Linked DNA regions of Homo sapiens: region 2 is linked to region 1. Evidence: fine-mapped expression QTL. Tissue or cell type: whole blood. Region 1 holds a variant in brackets; the other region holds the start of a gene. All regions are shown on one strand. Distances are between the middles of the regions.

The links. PIP is the estimated chance that this variant, and not a neighbour inherited with it, causes the effect.
Region 2: VEGFA starts here. The variant in region 1 is fine-mapped to the expression of VEGFA in whole blood (INTERVAL, PIP 0.96).

Annotation. Positions count from the first base shown.
Region 1 is chr6:43,800,765-43,808,863 of GRCh38, reverse strand. All of the region lies in intron 1 of LOC105375070 (a long non-coding RNA gene), which reads right to left. Among named protein-coding and RNA genes, the nearest start is that of VEGFA, 35 kb to the right of the region's middle. RefSeq lists a silencer at 978-1,272. The variant C/T (reference allele first, on the strand shown) is at 4,649.
Region 2 is chr6:43,766,302-43,774,400 of GRCh38, reverse strand. It overlaps VEGFA (vascular endothelial growth factor A), which reads right to left and starts at 4,190. Exons shown (of 8, transcript NM_003376.6): 1 at 3,089-4,190; 2 at 9-60. The coding sequence starts at 3,694. RefSeq lists enhancers at 702-1,467, 1,468-2,233, 2,234-2,999, 3,000-3,765 and silencers at 2,221-2,740, 2,811-3,750, 4,128-4,377.

The DNA.
Region 1 (8,099 bases):
AATAACCCGAAGCTGGAGGCAACCCAAGGGTCCATCAATAGATAAAAGGACAAGCAAGATTATTTAACATTTAAAATATTTAAAATGAAGAAATTCCTTTTTTTTTTTTGAGATAGGCTCTTGTTCTGTTGCCCAGGCTGGCGTGCCATCGCATGATTGCAGCCCACGACAGCCTCAACCTCCTGGGCCCAAACCATGCTCCCACCTCAGCCTCCTGAATAGCTGAGATCACAGGCACACCACCGCACTCAGCAATTTTTTTTCTTTTTTCTTTTCTTTTTCTTTCTTTCTTTTTGTTTTTTTGTTTTGTTTTGTTTTGTTTTTTGTTTTTATAGATAGGGGGTTCTCACTATGTTGCCCAGGTGAAAAACGAAGGAATTCTGACACAGGCTACGGCATAAATGAACCTCGAGGACATCATGCTAAGTGAAATAAGCCAGTCACACAAAGACAAATACTGTGTGATTCCACTTATTTGAGATACATGGGATAGTCAAATTCATAGTAACTGAAAGTAAAATGGTGGTTGCCAGGGACTGGAGGGAGGGGAATGGGGAGTTAGTGTTTAATACAGAGCTTCAGTTTTGCAAGATGAAGAGTCCTAGAGATGCATGGTAGTGATGGTTACACAGCGATGTGAATGTACTTAATACCACTGAACTGTACATTTAAAAACGACTAAGAGGGTACATTTTGTTACATGTATTTTACCTCAATAAAACACATCTTTAAAAAAATAGAAGAAGCAGCTAGGCGCAAAGTATAACTCCAAGGCCAGCCAGCCTCAGAGGAGAAAGTCTCCTTGATGCAGACACAGCAGAGGCAGCAAAGAAAGCAGCACCGGGGAGAGCCAAGTGTGTGACGGCAGAGCTGGCCTCAGCCACCAAGCCTGGCCGTGTTCTAGATGTGTCACTTCCCTGCTCTAGGGTTCAGTTTCCTCACCTGTCTAGTGGGATCAGTGAAACCTGCTCTGCCAAACCCGTATGCAGAGCTTGGAAAATGATAAGCCGCAAGTATGCAATGTTATGACACAGATAATAACTGTGAAAAAGCCGCGGTCAGGAATCTGATGGAAGTCTTTAGATTTGAACACTTGAAACAAGACACGTTCAAACTATCATGAGAGGTCTGTGAATCACAAGGAGGAAAGGAGCACTAGCTTGAGATAAAGCCTTCCCAGAAGGAGAAACAGCGCTTTCTGCAGCTGCTTTCCTGAGAGGATAATCTTGTCCATCTCTGTGCCTCCTCCCTGCCAGTCAGAGGCCCTGCCCTGCCCCTAGGGAGCCACCGGGCTGCACAGAGGCAGAAGCAGCCTGCAGACACAGAGCCCAGGGTGGTGGCAGATGAATCCAGCCTGGCTGAGCTCAGGGCCAATAGATTCTCACTAGGGGAGGAAGCAGAGGGGGACATGGGCTGGATGTGGTAAGCCTTGAAAGCTTTCTGGAGGACTGGCTGAGCCACTGTGGTGGGGAAACAGCAGGCACACAGCCCATCACCCATGGTGGCAAAAAGCATGGACTTTGACACGGTACAGACCAGGGTCAAGTCTGCTCTGCCTCTTGCTCTGTGTGATCTTGAGCAGTGATGTGAGCTGAGCTTCCCTTCTCCTCTGGTAAAATGGGGGTGTGATATGCACCCTTCTCACAGGGCACTTGTACAGATTACAAGTGAATCTACGTGCTATGCCCAGGACCCAACAAAGGGCAGCCTTTGTTATCATTATTAGTGCCTATTACTAATATAAGTGTTTTCCAAGGCTGGGAGGTGAGACAGAGATGGAAGATGGGAGAAAGACTGCGACTGTGGTCGGGTCGAGTCAGGGTCACACTGGGGCACCTTCCAGGTCTGGTGGGACATGAATGTGTATAGGGGAAGGAGATAGTAAGGGTCCCAGGGTCCTGCCCTAGCCAAGGCCTGACCCTCTGAGGTCTAAGACATACCCTCACCTCCCATTCGGCTAGGAGAGTCCCCCACCTCCTACTGTGGGAATCTGTCCTGTCAGAGCTGGGGGGAAGCACCCTAGATAAATCTTACCCTCCCTTTGGGGTTTACAGGTTGGTTCCCTGTGCTGTTAGCCATTAAAGACAGATCCCTCCTCATGACCCAAGGCTAACCAGGAGAGCTCCAGGAGGCAGCCTCTATGAGGATGTATTTAAAGGAAGCCCCAGCCTCCTCTTCAGGCAGGCCACCCCTCTTTCACCACCTCCCACCCATCCGCCCAACCGTCTTCACACACAAGGACACCTGGGTCTATTGGTGACCCAACAGGTAATCATTAACCCTGAGAGGAGGCACTGGCCCTTTAAGGCTGCCCTGGGAAGAGATGACAAAATCACACCACTGGACTTTGTGCCCTGAGGCTGTTAGGGAAAACAAGACCCGGGAGTGCGAGAGCCTCAGCTGGGAATCCCAGAGAGCCACTTCTGTCAGCCTTCCTCCCTCTGACTCCTCTCTGATAGGCTTGCCCTGCATGTGAATAATGGTAACTCCGCTATGCATGCAGGTCCAGGGGAGTGGTACCCTCTCTGATAGGCATCCTCTCTCCCTGGATCATTAGGCTTTGTTCATACCCCACCTCCTTCTGACAAGGGTCTCAGTCTGGGCTATCCTTTCAATGCCCATCGTGTGAAAAGGGGGACCATGGTAAGGACCACCCCAGCTACACCCAGCACCCAGCCCAGAGCCCAAGGTACTGACCCACAGAAGGCACTGGCCTCGTAAAGGCAACTGGGTGGTGGCATCCACGGAGAGAGCACAGGGGTGGGAATCAGGACTATTAGGTTCTAGACCCTGCTCCGCCCTGGGTCACTGTGGGGCCTCTGGTGTGTCTCAGCCAATCTCTGATCCCGGTGTCTACACGCAGGCAACGGGCCCTCTCACTGCCAGCTAGTCCTGTGGCTTTGCAGCCCTCGGTAGCAGTGATGGAACAGGGGGTGCTGATGCAGGGGATAGCCACTACTGTCCCTCCTCCTTGTGAACCAGGACCACAAACAGGTCACAGGCACATCTTGGACTAACCAAGATGAGCAAAGCTCTCTTAAACAGCTTACACCAAATAAGTGATTAAGAATCTTTCAAGGGCCTCAAGTGCCAGCGCCTCTGGGAAGCCTTCTCTGACTGTCCCAACCTTTGGCTCCAGTGCTGAGGAACTGCTCTGGTAAATATCTCATCTCCCTGATTGGTTTGTGACCTCTTTGAGGTAAAGGAACTGTATCATCTTCAACACAGAGAGCCAGAGCAAGCACGGTCCCAATATTTTCTGAGTGAATAGATGCATTGACATCAATGGTGTTTAAATATCAGCTCTGCACACAGAAGGAAGCCCCAGGTCTGAGTGATGATGTGCAGGTTTGGCCAAGGATGGGCCCAAGTTCTTTCACAGCTGGGTGACCTCAAGAAACAATCTGACCTCCCTGGCTCTCCTTTGGCCCAGATCCCATAAGCTGGTCAGTTAGTGACCATTGATCAGGAGTCTGCTGTCTGCAGGGCCCTGGGGAGGTTGTCAGAGGGCCACATGGCTCAGTTGTTTTTGGTTCCTTATGAAAAACTCTGAGAAAAACAGCATGAAGAAATCAGGACAGATTAGGCAGACCAAAGATGGGAATAAGATGCAAAGAATAGGCTGGAAGTAACCCCAGGAGACCTCCTAGGGGAGGTGAGTTCTGAAATAGAAACCCAGGACATCCATCCCACTCATTCATTAATTCATTCAGTCATCCATCCATTGAAGCAGCAGACATTATTAGAAGCCAGGCCCTGAGAATGTAAATGAACACAGCCCTTCCCTCAAGTTGTTGACAGTCTCGCTGGGCAGCCAGCATCTAAACTCAGGTGACCACACAGTCTGAGATATGACCTAATAGATACAGACCACATGCCAGAAAATAGAAGAGTGGAAAGCCTCTCAGGAGGGTTTATCTTGAAGGAACCCCCCACCAAAATCTGCTCAGCTGATCTGAGCTTTTACGGGAGCAGGAAATGCAGGTAATGAAAGAAGGGGCGAAAGAACCTTTGTAAAGCAACAGTTACCTGGCAGGTAAACAAGGTTAATGGAGACCTGTTGTTTTTCCAGGTTCTTGGTGACCTCACCTTTGACCAACAATTTCCTGGCACTAGCTCAGGCTGCCAAGGGGGGAAGAGGGGGAGGAAGAAGAGGGTAAACAGCAGGTGAGGCCAAAGGTGGCCCTAGAAGGCAAGGGACACATTCCAAAATGTCTCCCCAGCCTGAGGCCTGCAGCAGAGCCCAAAGTCCAATAGGGAACCCACACCCGCATTCCAGTCATCAAAAACACCATAAATACTGGATTACCCACCAGAAAGGATGCTTTCCGCTGCCTAGGAATGCCTCCCTTTCCCCAAGCTGAGGCCCAGTTCCCCACCTCCCCAAGTGTCCCCTTGTCCAGGAGGCCTTCTAGATCAGCTGGAAGGAGCTGAGGATTTCCACTTGGGCATGACCTGTTCCTCCTACCACCTCTTCCTCTTCTGCAATATCATTAACAACCAACCTTTAGGGGAAACTCCCTCTCTTCACTTCATTCCCTTCAGCCCAGACTGGCCAGTGGGAGAGCCCCAGAGCCATGTGGTGCTGCAATCCTGCTGGGCACTCAAAGAAGAAGCCCTGAAATTTCTCAGCCAGCAGCCAGGTTCC[C/T]GGCTCACTCTGCCACTCACAGGCTGCATGACCCTGGGTGAGTCACCAGACCTCAGTGTTGTCACCTGAAAAACAGGGATGCTGATGAGAAACACAGTCACATGGCTTTTGAAAGGAGCAAAGGAGATAATGTACAAAGTAAAATTAGGCATTATTATTCTAAATGCTGGATGTTACCAGAGATCACCCAAACTTCTAATTTTACTGATGAGGAAACTAAGGTCCAGAAAAGACATTTTAAAATAAAAGGATTTGGGTCCTCTCTCCTCTTCCTTCTCCTCCTCCTATGACTTATCTTCTTAGTTCAGCCTGGCCTTCTAAATACAGGTTTCTAAACTTTGTAAGGCAGAAATCCCTTGGAGAATCTGATAAAAGATAAGGACTTTCTTTCCCCAAAGGACATTCATTCACATACCCCCAAGACTGTGCAGGTAATTTCAGAGGGCTCGTGTGTTCCAGGCTGGGGCTCTGCTCTATGGCAGAGCAGAAAAAGAGAGGCTGTCCGTTCTTGGGTCAAGTCTCCCACAGCCACAGCCACAGCCCCAGGAAAGCAGGAAATAACAAGGGGCCAAGCCTGAACTTCAGGGATCAAACCTCACCCTGAGAGTCCCCCAAAGCCCAGTCCTCAAGGCCCTGGGAAGAAAGTCCCATTTAATCCCCCTCCAAACTCCTCACTACCCTCTCCCTTACCCCCACCCATCCTCTCTCAATCCACCTAAAACCCCCACCCACCCACAGCTCTTCTTTTGAACTGGTTAATTCTGTTCTGGTCTTTGAAAGTCAAACAGAATCTTAGAGACCATCTGTACAAACCTCTTTATCTTTACAGATGAGAACTATAAACAACGAAAGGCATACTGACTTGCCTGAAGTCACCCAGATAATCAGGACAAGAGCCAGGCTACATTCACCAACTCAGTCCCATGGGTGTGCGCTGAGGACCTACTGTGCGTCCTGGGCCCAGCTGGGAGGGGTGGGGCTGCCAAGAATTGATGAGCTGCAACAAGATTGGCAAAGCAAGTCTGAAATCCTTGGAATGAGAGTGCAAACAAGGTTACCAAGCTCCTGATTGTGTAAGAGAGGTTGCACAATCTCTAGAAGTTCAGCAAAGGCAGGGTTAGAGCATTCATTCATTCATTCATTCACTTATTCATTCGCTTAACAAATATTTATTGAACCCTAAGCACTAGTCATGGGGCCAACAGTCTCGACAATCACCCAGGCAAGGTTCCTGCTCCCCTGAAATCCTAGAGAGAGAAAGTCAATCTGTAAACAAATAAATTTTAGCTAGAGATAAATACCATGAAGAAAATTAAAAGAGTGGAATGCAAGCAACTTGGGGATGCCATTTATATTGCAAGGGAGGAGGGGAGAGGTGTTCAAGGAAAGCCTCTTGGAGGAGGTGACATATGAACAGAATCCTGAAAGGTGAGGGGGAGGTATCCATGCAAAGATGTGGAGGCAGCATGTTCCTGAAGGAGGGAACAGCAAGTACGAAGTCCCTAAGCGGACACAACACTGATATGTTCAAGGAAGGAGAGATTATTGTGTGCAGAGGGTGAGAGGGGCCTGCAAGGAGGCTGAAGAGATGGTCAGGAGGCAGACAAGGCCGGGCCTTGTGGACAGGCGATGAAGGCAGGCTTTATTTTGTGTGCAGGGAGGGTTTAAGCACAGAGGTAGCATGATCCTTCCTGTGGCATTAAAGTGGTTTCTGGCTGCTGGGAGGAAAAAGAATTGGAGAAGCTGGAGAGGAATGGAGAAGCCATGGAGCTGAAGCCAGATGGTAGAAAGAGGGGAACAAGGACAGAAGTATTTTTGAAGCAGAGCAGGCCCCGGGATTGCTGATGGCTTTGATCACCCGAAGGGATGGTCAGATTATGAATGCGTCTTTGGGCTTGAGCAGCTGTGGGGATGGAGGTGCCGTTCACAGGTATAAGAAAGTAACAGGCTTATGAGGAGAACGAACTCTTGCAATTTGTATATCAGGGAAAAAAGCTCGATATCCTTTGCTCACAAAACCTGTTCTGTCTGAATGTACTATAAAGACCATGTGTCCATATGACAACAAAAGATACAGCCATTTAAAGAACTCAAAGGTGTCTGTGACAGAGGATGGGGGAGCTAGGCTCTGAAAATAGCCAACGTGGCCAAAAGTGTATCAATCACAAGTAAAATTTCAAAACTGCTTTCCTTCTGGGCTTTCCACACCGTGCGGCTGACAGCCAGGGCTCTCCCTCCAGCCAAAGGCGGGGCCGTGTGGTCAGGGACCGAGGCTGGCAGGGGCACCTCACGCCCTGTGTTTGAGCTTCTTTCACTCGTGCTCCCTCTCATCTGATTTTCATGTTGTGCGAACCATGGTCACTAGATTTGGGCATGGTTCTTTCTGTAAGTCAAGAGATTTTTTTTTTCTTTTATAATCATCTTCTTTGAGAATGAAGGCGTTTCTTTTTATTGGGAAAAAAGTACCAGCTGGAATTATACACTGAATCACATTCCCGGCGCCACGTTCTGAGGGGAACTTGGGCATTAGATCCTGCCACGGCACTCCCGCTGGGCGCCCTCAATCAGAGGACAACACTGACCATCTGCCCTGTGCCTGTCAATGCAAACCCCAGAGGAAGACACAGAAAATTCCTTCCTCTAGGGATTTTGGTTGGGAAAATCCAGGCTTTTCCTCCAACTCTGTATCCTGTGTAGTCCTACTGGACCCCAAACCCAAGGCTTCTGACCTTGACGAGCCCCAGTCTCAGTCCTAGCCTCAGTCAGCCCTGCCTCTCTCCTGGGCCTTCCCTGACCTCTGCCACATCCCCTTCTTTCTTTCCTTCATCCTTCTTTACCTCTGACTGGAGATGTCCTGAACTTTTTTGCTCCGGTGCTGGTCTAGCCCTAGGCCACCTCCTCCAGGAAGCCCCTAGTGGTCAAGCCTGATGCCATCATCAACCTGGCAGCAGTTTCCAGTGCTCTCTCCTTCTATATACTGGTGTGTGATGGTCCTGGATTGTGTGCGTGTGTACATGTGTAACAGATCTGAAGGAGCATCTCTTCTGTTCAGATAGGAGGATCTTAGGGGCCTCATAATGACCAGCGGACACCTTTCCATTCTCTTCCTCGAGAATCCTCTCATTACGGGCCTGTTGCCAGTGACTGGCCTGTCTTCCCACTCTCCCTGGCCTCTGTTTCAGGTCCCTTCCATCCAGCCAACACATATTTACTGAGTACCTATTCTGTGCCAGACACGTGCTGAGAGCACAAGTATGAACAAGATAGGCAGTTCCCAGCTCTCATGGAACTGCTATTCTGAGTGAGGCATCCTCAGGGAGGTCGATGGGTGCGTGGGGAGCGTGTACACAGAGGGAGAGAGAGAGATCATCACCCACAGTGACAGGTGCCATTTGCTCCACAAGTTGAGTATCTATTGTGTGTCAGGTCCTATTCCAGGGACTTAGGACAC
Region 2 (8,099 bases), 34 kb after region 1:
GGACTCACCTTCGTGATGATTCTGCCCTCCTCCTTCTGCCATGGGTGCAGCCTGGGACCACTGAGGACAGAAAGAGAGCAAGGCATGGGCATGGGCAGGGGCTGGGGTGCACAGGCCCAGCCACCCAGCCCCTCCTCCCTCCTCACTTCCCTCCCACCAACAGCCTCTGGCTTCTCCAAGTCTTCTGAGTCGAACAGGACACAACCGGGGGTCCCCACGGGCACAGAATATGCCCACCACTCCTGGACTGCTATGGTTATGAACCCGAGGAAGTTAAAGACTAACCAGATGTTGGGGGCTGGGGAGCTCGAAATGCAGGAGGAAAACCCCAGAATGCTTCACTGTCGAGGTCCCCTGTACCTTCCCCACACTTCCCTCTCCCTGCTCTCACTATCCCCCTAGTTCCCTGGTCCAAAGCCATGGTAAGTATTAAGGTCAAATAGGAGGACAAATTTGGACTGGGGCAGGAAGGAAGGACTAGGGGCGAGAAAAACAACATGGTGACCTTCTCCTGCTGACATGACAAATACCAGGGTGAGCTGGTGTTGGAGACGGAGGGGGGTGCCGAGGACCGAAGGGCACCAACCACCCTCCCCCATCCAAGCTCTTCTAGTCCTTAGGAATAACCCAGCATGCCCACAGGTTGCTTAGAGGGTAAAAACCCAGGAGGAGACCCTGGGGGAGAACCACATTTTCCTCTCTACACAAATCTCTCCAGAGCCTCAATAGATTTCCAAAGCCTCACCTGTCTCCCACTCCTACCTGTTCCCTGGTTTCTTCTCCCTCCCAGGGTGAGGAGGTGCCAAGCCCCTCTCACCTGGGCACCTTCAAATGCCACCAGGGACCAGGGAAGGCTTTTATGCCTTGGCACTGCCCAGCCCCTAGGGGGCCCCCTGCACCACCTTAGGCCTGAGGCCTCCTCTAACCCTCCCCACCCGCATCAGATCATTCCTCCCCTCGCCAGAAGCTGTGAAGGTCAACACGCCAAGACATGCGGACCTGACAGCACCCAAAAGGAAAGGCTTCTGCCAGCCCTTCCTGGGGGTCTCCAGCTCTCACCAACTCCCCTCCCGCCCAGCACTCGCAGAGCAGAGGGGCACTCTAGCCTACGGAACACCAGACCCTGCTAGGGGAGAGTCCCACTGTCCATCTTTCTTTCCCTCTCCTTCCCACACACCCCAAATGCACCCCACTCAGGTACCCCAGCCCTGCTCCCAGAGACAGCCAAGGTCACAGGAAGCCCCTCTCAAGAGAAAACAACAGTTACCAGGCTTCCAGCTGGACAGCTTACCACTGCGGCTCCTGCAGGGACCCCCTGGATTCTGCACCTCAGCCCCCTCACCCATTCCCATGACACCCCCTGCCTTCCCCCTGACAATATTCTCCCGGGACCCTCCACTCCTCCTGGGCCCCAAGGAGGAAAGGGGACGGAAATTTCATACCCCTTCCAAGGCCAGGGAGCACAGGAGGGGCGGTTCTAGGCAGGCAGGGGCCAGGTGTCCTTCTCTGGGGGCCTCTGAAGGTCACACTGTGGCCAGGCAGCCACTCCTCCCCCTCCTCCCTACTTGGAGGCCTGTAGCCAAGGCCTTTGTGCCAGGGTCTGAGGAACTTGCGGTGTTAGCAGCGACCCCTGTCCATGGCTTTCCTCTTGCCTCCTCTCCAAGGGAATTCTGGCTGAGGGAAGGCGTCAGAGAGGAGCGGAAAGGGACCCTTTAGAGTCCCTTTCAGAAGCAAGTTGGGTGGGCAGGTTTGGAGTTCCAAAAAAACACCTGCTCCAGGGCTGCCTTTCACCAGGACAAAGTGTGTGCAAGGCTGGCAGGAGCTCCTTTCCAGGGTTCAGGAAGGACTATTCCCATGCTGCCCGTGTCACAGCAAATTTCAAGCCATTTCTCCAAAAGGGTAAAGTGGGGCAATGACTCTTCAAATCCTCCCTTGACCCACCCCCACGAGAGCTAAAGCACAGCTCACTCGGAACTGTTGGCGAGGGAAGGGAAGCACACTGTCACCAAGTCGGGACTTTCGGTGGAATGTGACAAAGCGCCCAGTGGGCTCCCGCGCCACGACTTCTGACAGTGATCATCCTTTCCCTGGACTCTGGGGCCAGAAAGGGGTTAGATGGATCTTCTCCGCAGAGAGAAATGAAAATAAGCGGGGTGACAGGGGCTTCTCTCCAGGCTAAAAAGGAAATGGGTGAAGAGAAGGGGCGTCAGGAAATTCCTCCTAGCACTGGGCAGAGGTAGGGTCTGGAGACAGTAGGAAGGGGTAGGGATGGTTCTCTGGATCCCCGGGCTGGGGCTACCTCGAGAGGTCACCTTCCCGCGGAGGGCTGGCGGGGGGAGGGGTGCCGCTCGCCACTCTGGGCTCCCCATTCGGGCAGCCGAGGCTCCGGGAACACGCGGCCGGCCAGGCCCGGGCTGATGTAATCGGCTCCGCGCCGCGCGCACCCGGCCGGGCGGGGGAGGGCGGGCACCGAGCGGGACGCGAGCGGGGACGGGCGGGGTTGGCGCGGCGCAGGTGGCCCAGCAGGGAGGGGGGGTCCCCGCAGCAATCCACCCCAAAACTTTTCCCAAACTCGCGGCGAGGGCTGAAGAGACCGAGTGGCAGTGACAGCAAGCCCCCTCTCCCTCCTGCGCCCTGCCCCCTCCACGCTCTCTGCCCTCCCGCGGTCCAAGGTCCGAGCACCCCCTGCCCACTGGTCTCTGGCTCCCGCCCCCGCTGCTCAGACTTCCAGTTCGTCCGGGACCAGCGGCCGGGAGCAAACTTCAGCCGGCAGCGGCAACGCAAGCCCAGCCCCCTCGGCCTCCTCCTCCGGCTCCCGCCCTCGGCTGGTCGGCCCAGATCGTACGTGCGGTGACTCCGGTGGGTGGGCAGGGCCCGCGTGGGCGGTGAGCCTCTCTCCGGGTACCCTCCCACCTAGCGCGCGCGCCCCCTCCCCCTGCACCTAAGACGACAGAGGGGGACGCCGCACGCCTGGTGCCCATGGACCCGCGTGGGGCACGGAGCCCCCACGCGCGCGCTCGCACGCACGTCCCCAGCCGGGAGAGGCGCTCGCAGCGGCCCGCGGCGCCAGCAGGGCACGACCGCTTACCTTGGCATGGTGGAGGTAGAGCAGCAAGGCAAGGCTCCAATGCACCCAAGACAGCAGAAAGTTCATGGTTTCGGAGGCCCGACCGGGGCCGGCGCGGCTCGCGCTCCCTCTCCGGCTCGGGCTGTGGGGCGGCCCGCTCTCCTCGGCGCCTCGGCGAGCTACTCTTCCTCCCCGGCCCGAGGCCCGGGCCAGGGCCTGGGGAGCGCGCGCGGCTGGAGCACTGTCTGCGCACACCGCCGCCTCACCCGTCCATGAGCCCGGCTTCCGAGCGCCGAGTCGCCACTGCGGCCCCCTCTCCTCTTCCTTCTCTTCTTCCTCCTCCCCCTCCTCCGGCTGCGGCTCCTCCCGGCCCGAGCTAGCACTTCTCGCGGCTCCGCTCGGCTCGGCTTCCCCCGCGCGGACCACGGCTCCTCCGAAGCGAGAACAGCCCAGAAGTTGGACGAAAAGTTTCAGTGCGACGCCGCGAGCCCCGACCCCCTCCACCCCGCCTCCGGGCGCGGGCTCCGGCCCCTGCCCGCGGCTCGCCGCCGCGTCCACTGTCCGCCGCCGGCCGGGGAGGAGGTGGTAGCTGGGGCTGGGGGCGGTGTCTGTCTGTCTGTCCGTCAGCGCGACTGGTCAGCTGCGGGATCCCAAGGGGGAGGGCTCACGCCGCGCTCCGGCGGTCACCCCCAAAAGCAGGTCACTCACTTTGCCCCTGTCGCTTTCGCTGCTCGCACGCCCGCGCGCTCTCTCTGACCCCGTCTCTCTCTTCCTCGACTTCTCTCTGGAGCTCTTGCTACCTCTTTCCTCTTTCTGCTGGTTTCCAAAATCCACAGTGATTTGGGGAAGTAGAGCAATCTCCCCAAGCCGTCGGCCCGATTCAAGTGGGGAATGGCAAGCAAAAATAAATTAAAACGAGAAACAATACAGTTTTAAAAAAAAATGTTTAAGAAAAAAGAAGAGGGATAAAACCCGGATCAATGAATATCAAATTCCAGCACCGAGCGCCCTGGCCGGTGAGTCCGCTGACCGGTCCACCTAACCGCTGCGCCTCCCGACAGAGCGCTGGTGCTAGCCCCCAGCGCCACGACCTCCGAGCTACCCGGCTGCCCCAAGCCTCCGCGATCCTCCCCGCTACCAGCCGACTTTTAAAAAAAAAAGGGGGGGGCGCATGGCTCCGCCCCGCCGGGACCCCGCCCCCGGCCCGCCCCGGGGGGCGGGGACAGGCGAGCCTCAGCCCTTCCACACGCGGCTCGGGCCCGGGCTCTGCGGACGCTCAGTGAAGCCTGGCCCGCAGCCCGCCGCAATGAAGGGGAAGCTCGACCCCCACCAAGGTTCACAGCCTGAAAATTACCCATCCGCCCCCGGAAACTCTGTCCAGAGACACGCGCCCGCGGGGCATTGGCGAGGAGGGAGCAGGAAAGTGAGGTTACGTGCGGACAGGGCCTGAGAGCCGTTCCCTCTTTGCTAGGAATATTGAAGGGGGCAGGGGAAGGCGGAGAGCCGGACAGGGACGGGTGGGGAGAGGGACACACAGATCTATTGGAATCCTGGAGTGACCCCTGGCCTTCTCCCCGCTCCAACGCCCTCAACCCCACACGCACACACTCACTCACCCACACAGACACACACGTCCTCACTCTCGAAGACGCTGCTCGCTCCATTCACCCAGCTTCCCTGTGGTGGCCGAGCGCCCCCTAGTGACTGCCGTCTGCACACCCCGGCTCTGGCTAAAGAGGGAATGGGCTTTGGAAAGGGGGTGGGGGGAGTTTGCTCCTGGACCCCCTATTTCTGACCTCCCAAACAGCTACATATTTGGGACTGGAGTTGCTTCATGTACAGAGAGCCCAGGGCTGGGCACAGGGGCCACAGTGTGTCCCTCTGACAATGTGCCATCTGGAGCCCTCATCTGGCCTGCAGACATCAAAGTGAGCGGCAGCCAACAGGCTGGAGTGACTGGGGTCCTTTGGGAAGTGTCCAGGGATGCTTCCCAGGGGAGAAGAATTTGGCACCAAGTTTGTGGAGCTGAGAACGGGAAGCTGTGTGGTTCCGGGGTTAGTCAGTGACTGGGAGGGAAGAGGACCTGTTGGAGCCCACGTATGCACTGTGGAGTCTGGCAAAACCCAAAGGGGGAGGCAGCTGGGCAGACAGAGGCCCTTGTTCCTGCTGCCCCCCCAACCCCAGATGTTGCCAGGGAACTGAGGCCAGGGGGCTGGTGGGGGCGGGTGGAGGCCAGGGCCTGCGTGATGATTCAAACCTACCCGCCAGCACTAAGGAACGTCTGTAGGCCAGCTGCCCAGAGCTCCCACCAGGCCAGGGGCCAAGGCTTCTATCAGCCCAAGCCCAGACTCATAGCTCATCTTCTGAATAGAAATGGGGGTTTCGTCTCAGCTCCCCCATTCCCTCAGGATCCCTTGGCTACTTCTCCAGGCTCACAGCTTCTCCCCTATCCTTCCCCCAGTCCCCTCCCTTACCTCCAAGCCCCCTTTTCCTCCAACTCTCCACATCTTCCCTAAGTGCTCCCAAAGGCCCCATCCCATTCTTGCATATAGGAAGCAGCTTGGAAAAATTCCTAGCTGGTTTCTGACCTGGCTATTTCCAGGCTGCCCCAGGGAACAAAGTTGGGGCTCTGAGGCCTGTGGGAAGAGTGGGACCAGTCAGTCTGATTATCCACCCAGATCTTGCCAGGGTCTGGCCTACAGCTGGCATAGCCTCTGTGGAGGCATGGACTGAGAATGGGAATGCAGCAATTTCCCTCAATTTAACCAAAACGCTCCAGGGAGCTTACCTAGTCAGCCCCATCCTCAGCACATGTTGCTGTGGTTTGGTGGAGGTGCTAGGTTACCTCCCCAGTACCCCCAGTTCCATCGGTATGGTGTCCTAAGGCCCTTATGAGGAAAAGGGCTGGCTCCCACCCACCCCAACCCTCCCTTTCCATCATTCGTGCACTAGTCCTGTCTCCACCACTTGGCAGGCTCCCCAGCAGCAGGGACAAGGTCTTTGTACAGTTAGTAAATGTTTATTTCCTGGCTCAGGGCCCCCTCCCAGGCAGGCCTCCTCACCTGGGCTCCATGCTCTAGGCTGATGAACGGGATATGGAAGGGAAGCCACTAACTTTCCTCCTTGTGCGCCTCTAGCACCCCAGGAGCACAAGCTGTAGACATCTTGGGGCAGGATGGAGGCTCTGAGCCCTAAGGGCTCATTCTGGCCCCCTCCCTTGCATCCCTTCTCAACTCGGCCTTCTTCAGCCCCTAAAAGAGCCAACAGACCTGAAAGAGCAGGTCTTAGTAAAAAACAAATAAACAAATCTGAAGCTAAGAGGAGGCTGGAGGGGTTCCAAGGAGGGATAGCCATCACCAGTCACTCCGTGGCCCCAGGCACCCCCCACCCCCATAAGCCAACTGTCCTCCATGGTGGTACCCAGCAAGGTGTGTTACAACAACCTGTTTGTGTTTCCCTCTGGGGCTTTGCCCAGGGATCCAGGGGAGTGAGGGCACAGAATTCCTTTTATATAAGGCTAGGATTACAACCTGGCCTAGGGGTTTTTGAGCTACCTTCATTAGGGCGAGAAAGTATGGCCCACCTCCCCCCTTCATTGTGGAGATATAACCTGGCTGTGACCTGGAGGGGTTAACTCTGGATCCCATGCCCCAGTGTGTTGTCACCGGCATTTACAACAATGTACTCTTAAGGACTCAGCCAGTGCCCACATTGTCACCAAATTAAAAGCTCAAGTCACCTAGTCACCTGAGCTTTCAAAAAAGGGGAAAAAGCACAAAACAACAATCACAAGACCACATGTATCTCTGTGGCATCTTCCCTTCCATGGGCTTAGCCCCCTGAACAACTTGACTTCACTTATCCTCACCTCCCTCCCCAGGCTGCTTGCTGCAGGGGAAGGGGCGTCAGAGCAGACTGTCTCCCCAAAGAATCCTCCGAAGGCCCAGAGAGGGCACAAAGGGGCCCAGGGTCACCTAGCAGATTGGGGGAAGGGGCAGTGAAGCAGAGAGCAGCCCACACAGAGGTCATGCTGGCTCCCAGTTGAGGGGCAAACTCGGCCCCGCTTGGAGGGCCTCACCTTGGGAGCGCAGTGGCCACTCCCCACAGTCTGTGGCTCTGAAGGCAGTTCAGAAGGAGCCAAGGAGGAAGGGGAAGGTGTTCCAGGTGAGGGGGAAGGGGAGAAAGGGGTGGGGGTGGAGAAAAGTGCGAAAGGCAGCCAGGAGCCAGCGGCGGCCCCAGACAAAGAAAGTAGTGATTGGGCCAAGGCACAATAGTTGTACTTTGTCCTGATGTCCTGTCACCTCCAATATTCAGGGAAACTCTCGCCTGTGTGGGTGTGGGTGGTTAATCTAGAAGCCGGTGGATGAAGGGACAAAATCTCTCCTGAGATTGGAAAGAAGGTGAGGAGAGAGTCACTGGGTCTTGCTGTTTTCCACACATTTCTCCAAGTGGCTTCACTGCAATGGAAGGAGGTCTTGTCCTTCACTCCATCCCCTGACCCCCAGGTGACTAGCAGGACACTGATCTGCAGGAAGGGCAGGATACAAACCTGGTGAATTGAAGGAGAGAGAATTGGGTTGGTTCCCCTCAATTCCCTGACCCTGACTGTGGGTCAATCTCTGTCTCTCTCTCTCTCTCTCTCTCCCCGCCTAGGTCTTTGCAACAAAGCATTAAAAAGACAAAGAGAAAGCAAAGGAAAGGGCCTCTTTGGTCCAGTGCCAATGTCCTAGCCCCATGTGGATCTGGAGGTTTGACTTGAGGTAATGATAAGTAATGATGGCCAACTGATAAAAAGATTGGAGCAGAGGAAGCCAAGGAGGGTAACTCTCCCAAGAGGATCCAGTCAGGAAAGGGGGAAGGAATGGGGAAGAGGACCTAGCTGGAGAGAGGGCAGGGCAGAGTCACTGTCTGGGGAAGCTCACCTACCCACACCACCCCTAGGCCCATCAGCCTCTGCCTCTCCTTCATGGGCCCCAGTCTAATCCCCTGACACTAAGCTGTCCCTGATGAATTGCATCTCCCCAACACCCCC